Linked DNA regions of Homo sapiens. The protein of the gene in region 1 purifies or fractionates together with the protein of each later gene. This does not show direct contact. Each region holds a gene or a part of one and is shown in the gene's direction. Other genes may lie near its edges. The genes, in order: LSM11 and TAF5L.

Region 1 (3,827 bases):
CCTTGTGGAGCAGTTGTATTCTTTTCCTTGCAGTAATAAAATTTTAAAAGTAGCCAGGCACAGTGGCTCACACCTGTAATCCCAGCACTTTGGGAGGCCGAGGCGGGCAGAACACTTGAGGCCAGGAGTTCAAGACCAGCCTGGCCAACGTGGTGAAACCCTGTCTCTACTAAAAATACAAAAATTAGTTGGGCATGGCAGCATCTGCCTCTAGTTCCAGCTGTTCAGGAGGATGAGGCACGAGAATCGCTTGAACCCTGTAAGTGGAAGCTGCAGTGAGCCGAGATCATAGGGACATCATAGAGACCTCTACAGAGGTGATACGAGGTCTCAAAAAAAAGTAATAATAAAAGTATAGGAGGCTGTTGCAATACTGGGAATACTAAAGAAGAAAAAAAGCATAGGAGGAAAGGTTTTTCGTCATCATTAAGCCTAAGCCATCACTGATACCAACAAAGAACTCACACACAAGCTGTACTTGCAAGTGGAATGCAATTGCTTTTCCTCCTTTTTAATATTGACATGCCTATAGAGATGGTAAGACAAGACTAAAGAGCATTATCCTCTTTTCCACATAATTCTAGTGTCTATATTTCTCCTTAGTATCGCAGCACCATACCTAGCCCACGGTGGTTCTGGTTTATAATTGTGCTTCAAGCAAGCTTTTTCTAGGTATATCTGTCACTGTGAAATGAACTGGTGTGTTCAAGCTCACGTCTTGACATTATAAAGCTGTAAGAAAAAGTGTTATCATTACTTTGTTTTAGCTACAGGTGTGTTGGTGTGCAGCCTGTGCCGGTGTGAACAAGTGTGTGTGGTCAATCCAAAATGCATATGACATGCAGGGTTTGGCTCCTAGACCATTGTCTAGGTGAATGGCTTGTCTCCAGTTCCAAATTCAGTTTTCCTGCAGGGAGCCTACACAGTCCTTTTACTCGCACACATCCTGCTGAGAAGGATTTCAAAACAAACCTGATTTATTGGGCCTCTGACGTGATACCATGATTGAAAATTTGTTTGAGTCCTGTTGTTGTAGTTTACTTTGATTGCTGAAATAATTTCCCACAATATGGTGTCTTGATGTTTTCATTTTAATAAAGTGATATTCTTTGGATAACTTTGACTTCACTTCCTGCAAATAAAGAGCAAGAAAATAGGCAAAATCAAGAACATCTGAGCCCTGTGTACAGCAGTAAAATGAACTCTCAAATTTGAACAGCATCTCTGTTACACAGAGGTTGCCAAAAGGGCATGAGTATGACTTACATAAAACCGAGAACAGCGGTACTTAGGCTTCAGAAAAGGCCAAGCTTAAAATTCAGCCTTGTCACTTTTCTCAGCTCATTGCAGCTGTTTCCAGTCAGCTGTCTCCAGTGCAACTAAGGAATAGTCTCAGATGATTTCTGCACCACACTGCTGTGTGTGTGTGTGTGTGTGTGTGTGTGTGTGTGTTTAGGCCAGTTTGACATAGCATCACAATAGGGAAGACACTGATGTGCCTTTGCCGGGTCACTGATTCAAACATTGTACTTTCAATCTGTCATGGCACCCTTCTATAGAATGGCAACTAAAACTATTTTCAGAGAAAAGAGAAAATATTTTTCCATTGCAGACTCATAAGGTGACTGTTACAGTTTGTGGTTTCATTTCTCTGGGCCCTTAATAGGTTATGGAATCTGGGGAGCTGCCTTTGCCCTAATGAGCTAATAACTTTGTATATTTGGAGATATATATGTAGATACAGTTTTGTCCTTAAATCTTTGAATAGGTAGTTGTGGAGGCTAAAGCAACTCCATCTTGAATGCCAGTCCACCATGTTGACTTCTGATTAAACCCAGTTCTGGGAAGGCCTCTAAGATTTCCAATTTATCTGTTGTTTCTTGTGTAAGAGCATGTACTTACTGTAATTCCTGTCCTTACATGAGAACAACCTTGACGTTATCTTACTTCAATTGTCCTACACATCCCTTCTGAATCACCCTTTCCCTGTAGCATATAAGCCCTGCATCTGGGGGTCATGGCACGGGGATCCACCATCTTGTTTTGCCGCCACCTGAGACGCAGACGTGGCTTCTGTTCCTACATTCCTATTAAATATTTCTTTCTAAGGAAAACAAGAGTTACTGTAAGAGGCAAGTTTTAGGTCTTTAAAGAAGGGCATGATTGAGAACAGTTATTTTAAAATCAGGCTGTGATGGTATAATTTACATGTAGCAGGAGAAGGAAGAGTGGAGCTGAAAATGACCTGGATCTGGAAGGATGTGGCAATAGAGAAGGGGATTGGAAGAGTAACTTTCTCCAAAGATAAGGCATATGCTTTTTTGTCATATTTGGTCATAGAAACCTGACTCATATCCATTTGGAGCTTGCCACAGAGACGGCTGGAAAGAGAATGTGCACTCTGATTCAGAATGGGGAGCTCATTTTTGCCTTGGCGGTTTGCTCTGATAGGTGGTGCTAGTGTCGTACTTTTGATCACACAAGGATACAAGGAGAGCAATGCTTCCTGGAATTACACCTTATTAAATCTTTGGAAGAAAAAAATTAAAGGTACACGTTTGAGAAAGACCAATTGAAAGACCTGAATTTGCCATCTATTTAATTAGAGTAAGAGACTGTTGCTAAGATACCTGCTTGCCCTTTCTATTTTTGGAGGTGTGGGAAAGAAGTAATGTCCCTGTTTTTTTCCAAGTTAGAAAAAAATAGTCTTTCCACTCTTTGTATAAACATACATCATAGGGCAGGGGGCAGTATATATGTATGTGTAGGAAAAGAAATAATGCAAGCATGTGATCAGTTTCTAAGAAATTGAGTTATTGGGACTTAGTCCTGAAATAAATCTACAAGTTAACTATCTTAACCTCATTTTATGAATGAGGAAATTTGGAACTTAAAGAAAAAGTTATTCATCAGGTTCACACAACTAGTTATAATGACCTGAAAATTGTTTACAATGCTTGAATGCTTGATTTAATATGGCCTATAACACATATACACGCGCGCGCACGCGCGCACACACACACACACACACCCACACACCCATACACACCCTTAGCTAGCAAATGTACAAAGGACTTTAAAATACTGCTAGAAGAGAGGTAAATGATGATGGTCAGACCAGAATTCTCATGGTCTTTTCCAAAGTCACTGCTTCGTGTCGCTTCCAACTCCGAGTTATTCTCACACCGTTAATCTGACATAAACTCCTGCTAGTCTGCTAAGTCATTTTCTTCTAAGAATCTTTTATTAATTTATCACAGCCATCATTTATAAGCCAATCCATGACAGAGGGATAAGGTGGCTTCAGGAGGAACCAATTTAGTTATCCAAACTGAAGTGCAGGACTGTTGTTCTCCTTTATGTCACTAGAAACAAAGCAGGAGAGATTTTTCATTTGTCTACTGTCAATGCCAAATACTCTATATATCCAGACTTCTAAGACCTGACCAAAAATAAACTTTCTACAGAATTTTGCGTTGCAAACTTGGGAAAGAGTGAGACTGTGTACGCACGAGAAAGAGAGAGAGATTGGGGGTGCGTAGTGCGTGCCTGTAGTCCCAGCTACTCAGTGGGTTGAGCTAGGGGGATCGCTTGAGCCAGGGAGGTCAAGGCTGGAGTGAGCTGTGATTGTGCCACTGCACTCCAGCCTGGGTGACAGTGAGACCCTGTCTCAGGAAAAAAGAATGTGTACGGCTTTCTTTTGGGAGGTTTTATATACCATAGCCAGCATATTGTGAGAGCTGAGTTAACATGAAATAATAAAAATAAAATTCATCTTTCCTCCCACGCTCTGAGAATCCTTCATAATAAAAGCTGAAATTTATAGT
Region 2 (3,827 bases), on another chromosome or scaffold:
CAGACAGTAATGGGAGGGCAGAGCCACAAGAGAGGCTTGCAGTGGGAGGGACCAAGAGAGTTTCAAGTAGGAGGTGAGTTCAGCAGCATCACATCCAGCTGAGAGATCGTGAAGGGTGGTGCTGGAAAGTGACTGGTTAGATCAAAAAGTTAAGGAATCCCAAGTCTCAGTAGCCCACTGAGGTCAGAAGCAGGGTCAGCTGGCTGGGTGAGGAGACTGGTGAAGGTTTAGAATAGCGTAGGTGGAAGGCTGTAGGGTAAGTAGTTGATGAAACAAGACTTCTGGAACATCATGGAGGTCCCAGCTGATGTTGGAGAAAATCTACTTCTCATGACATCTGTTTGCTGGATTTCGTGATTTCCACCTACTTTCTACCACTGCTGCCATCCCCACCAAAACGCCACATTCTTCACTGCGTCCTGAGCCCAGCTACGGCCTTATCCATGTGCCATTTTATTTCTTAGGACACCATGGGAAAAAACACAGCTTCTAGTTCAAGTGTATTTATGTCAGTCTGAGCAAAGATTGAATATGAAAGGCTATCATAATTTTTAAATTATATGAGGTATGACTGAAACTGAAAGTAGTATGGCTCATTTATTTTTCAGTTGTGATTTATATTTTCACAAAGCTTATTGAATACACTTTATCATGATGATTAATGCAAAGCTAGGGCTTTAGGTCCTACTTAGACTGATCTTTTGATGTTACAACCATTTAGTTGCTGTGAGTGAAGAGAACTAATAACTTGAGTTACCTAGTAGACACTTTACAAAAAAATGCAAAAAAATAATTTTTTTCTTCTGTTATAAACATAAATTTGCCATTGGAAAAAAGATACAATTACTCAAAAGCCAACAGTCAGAAGTCTCAGTTGAAGAGCTGATTTGAGGATTGTGTAGTGAGTTTGCCTGAATTTATCTTGAACTCACCCCTACTCAAAACTGCCACCTTATTGGGGCAGGGGGAGGGATGGGGGAGCCAGGTAGTACTCTTTTGGCATTTCGTGGAACTGTGTAGTACTTTAACCTGTGATATGGTGGATGAGGGTGCCTCCCAGCCCTCCTCTACCGACCGTGTACATTAGAGCCTAACGGGGGTGGGGGTGGAGGGATAGGATGCAGCGTGTAACCACTGAAGGGATTGACCAGACTAGAGTTCCACACTGACAGCATCTTAAGAGGATGCCTGGGTTCCATGTATCTCCACCTCCCCATGTTTCTGTAGTTGAATGTTAAGTGTGGCTGTGGTTTTCCCTGCAGAGTTGTTACATTGAAATGATCATGTGGGATTTTATATAGCAACTTGGTTGAAGTATCTGGCAACTGTTGATACATGAGAATAGATATACATTGTGTCAAAATCCTCCAGAAATTTTTGATTTCCAGAAATACCAATCTGGCAACTGTTGATACATGAGAATAGATATACATTGTGTCAAAATCCTCCAGAAATTTTTGATTTCCAGAAATATCAATAATGTGATATGAAGAGCAGAGTATTTGACATCTGTTTTTACCTCTGAAAGTTAAGTATTTTATATAAATTGAAAATGATGAGAAATTCTGAAATGTTAACAAAGAGTATAATTATATTTAAATCCAATTTCAGTTTGAAAGATTTTATAATTATAGGAAAAGCTAGGCAGGTAACGAAACTGCACTGTTCGTCTCATGTATGAGTCTCTCCAGAGACTTAGGTCTAGTTTAAGGAGAGTTTTTTTTCTTCACTTGTCCCTTTTTGGATATTAGTACTCTGGAAATCAGTCTGGGTGGAGGGGACCGATTTATCTCAGGTTCATTAATTATCCATGTCACTTGAAATATATGTACATTGGAATAAAACCCAGCTGAGTTGATTGGGTCGTGTCTCTAGTATTTGAGTTTAGCGTGGTTATGCAAGAGAGTCATTGCCAGAATTCCTGCCCTTAAGATCCATGGCCATACAGTTGATTCACCACCCACCCTCAGGGAAGCGCCCTTATCATAAATGGTAGTTTGGACTCAGAGAAATTGCTATTTGGGGCAGCTAATTTAAGCATATTTGTTAGAATCAGTATTACAGACTAGTTTCTAGCAATCTTAAATATGGTCAGTGTTGACTATCATTCATTCTTACTCCGTTCTGTTTACTCTTTCCTAACTTCACATCTTTTCCCTTCCTCCTCAGACACATAGGTATATTGTCGCACCTTGAGGACACTGTGTCATTGCAGAGCCTGTTCTCCAGATCAGTCATTCACATGTCTTTCACATGCAGAGTTTTTTCCTGTCAGAGGTGATCTAAGAGATCGAGGCCCATCTGCCTGGAATGCTCACGGATGTGCATCAATATTTGCATGCATTCCCAAGTCAGCAAAAGATCGGCAGTGTGGAAGCCGGAAAGATTTCAGTCTCAGCTAGAGTAGGGAATTGGGCTGCTTTGGGAAAGCCCGCAGAGTAGGAGATCTTGAAGTTAGATGAAAAGCAGCTGTAGCAAGTGATAGGAAGAGGCACTGGTTGGATTGACTCGTCTTGACTTTGGGCCACACGGGAAAGGACAGTACTGTCACAGCCTCCGTGTGCATTTAACTTTTTTACTCTAAATATAACACAACCAGAATCTGCAGGGCTGAAATTATTTATATACATATCCACACACTCATGGGATTCTTATGTATAGCCAGGTTGGAGGATCACTGATAGAGCAGTGCTGATCAGTGGCCACAGAGAATGGGAGCAGGGACCCCACTCTCAGAGTATCAGAATCCCTGTATTAGCAATTTAAAAAAACAGCTTAATTAAAAAGTAACCTAAGTCATCAATACAGTGAGAGAATAATACACCATACCCAAGCAAGGTAAATTTCATAGTGAGAAGAGAGTTCAGTATTTGGAAATTTATTATTGTGTTTCATTATGTCACTGATTCACAACCATAGTGTTCCTTCTTTTTAACAATCACACACCTAGTACCCCTTCTTTGTAACAAATATTTTGAACTCTTTGGCAACCTAGAAATAAAATGCACAGATAATGTAATCTTTCTGGGCATATAGTTTAATATATATATAATGTCCTAACATTTTATATTTACATGTATATATACTTGTGAGTATGTCTCTAGCCTTCACAGTTTGCTCTGTTGTATGACTTGTAGGGAATTGAAAAGTAGGTCTTCAGAGTATATTTTTAAAGGGCTCCCACAAATCAGTTTAGAAGGAAATAATTACTTGCAAATGGTATTGGGACAGTGTGTTAGCTACAGTCACTGGGCAAAACATTTGTTTGGTTATTCACCACACATACACTAAAAGAAACTGCAGATGGACGAAAATTAGATACAAATAATTTTTTTATGTTTAAAGAAAAATAAGACCAGGCATGGTAGCTCATGCCTGTAATCCCAACAATTTGGGAGACTAAGGAAGGAGAATTGCTTAAGCCCAGGAGTTTGAGACCACCCTGGACAACATAGCAAAACCCCTTCTCTACTAAAAAAAAAAATATAAATAAATAAATAGACTTCCGGAAAAGGTGGAATTTTACATCTTAAAAAAGAATGGAAGAGCAGGCACGGTGGTTCGCACCTGTAATCCCAGCACTTTGAGAGGCCAAGGCAGGCAAGTCACTTGAGGTCAGGAGTTCGAGACCAGCCTGGCCAACATGGTGAAACCCCATCTCTACTAAAAATTTAATAATTAGCCAAGTGTGGTAGCGTGGGCCTGTAATCCCAGCTACTCGGGAGTCTAAGGCAGGGAATCACTTGAACCCAGGAGGTGGAGGCTGCAGTGAGCTGAGATCATGCCATTGCACTCCAGTCTGGGTGACAGAGCAAGACACTGTCTCA

The links.
Region 2: the proteins of LSM11 (region 1) and TAF5L fractionate together in Homo sapiens (co-fractionation; one large-scale study listed by BioGRID). This does not show direct contact.

The regions. Positions count from the first base shown.
Region 1 is NC_000005.10:157,746,577-157,750,403, forward strand, and holds part of LSM11 (U7 snRNA-associated Sm-like protein LSm11), read left to right. Parts: intron 1-3,827. UniProt on the Homo sapiens protein: Component of the U7 snRNP complex that is involved in the histone 3'-end pre-mRNA processing. Increases U7 snRNA levels but not histone 3'-end pre-mRNA processing activity, when overexpressed. Required for cell cycle progression from G1 to S phases.
Region 2 is NC_000001.11:229,616,032-229,619,858, reverse strand, and holds part of TAF5L (TAF5-like RNA polymerase II p300/CBP-associated factor-associated factor 65 kDa subunit 5L), read left to right. Parts: intron 1-3,827. UniProt on the Homo sapiens protein: Functions as a component of the PCAF complex. The PCAF complex is capable of efficiently acetylating histones in a nucleosomal context. The PCAF complex could be considered as the human version of the yeast SAGA complex.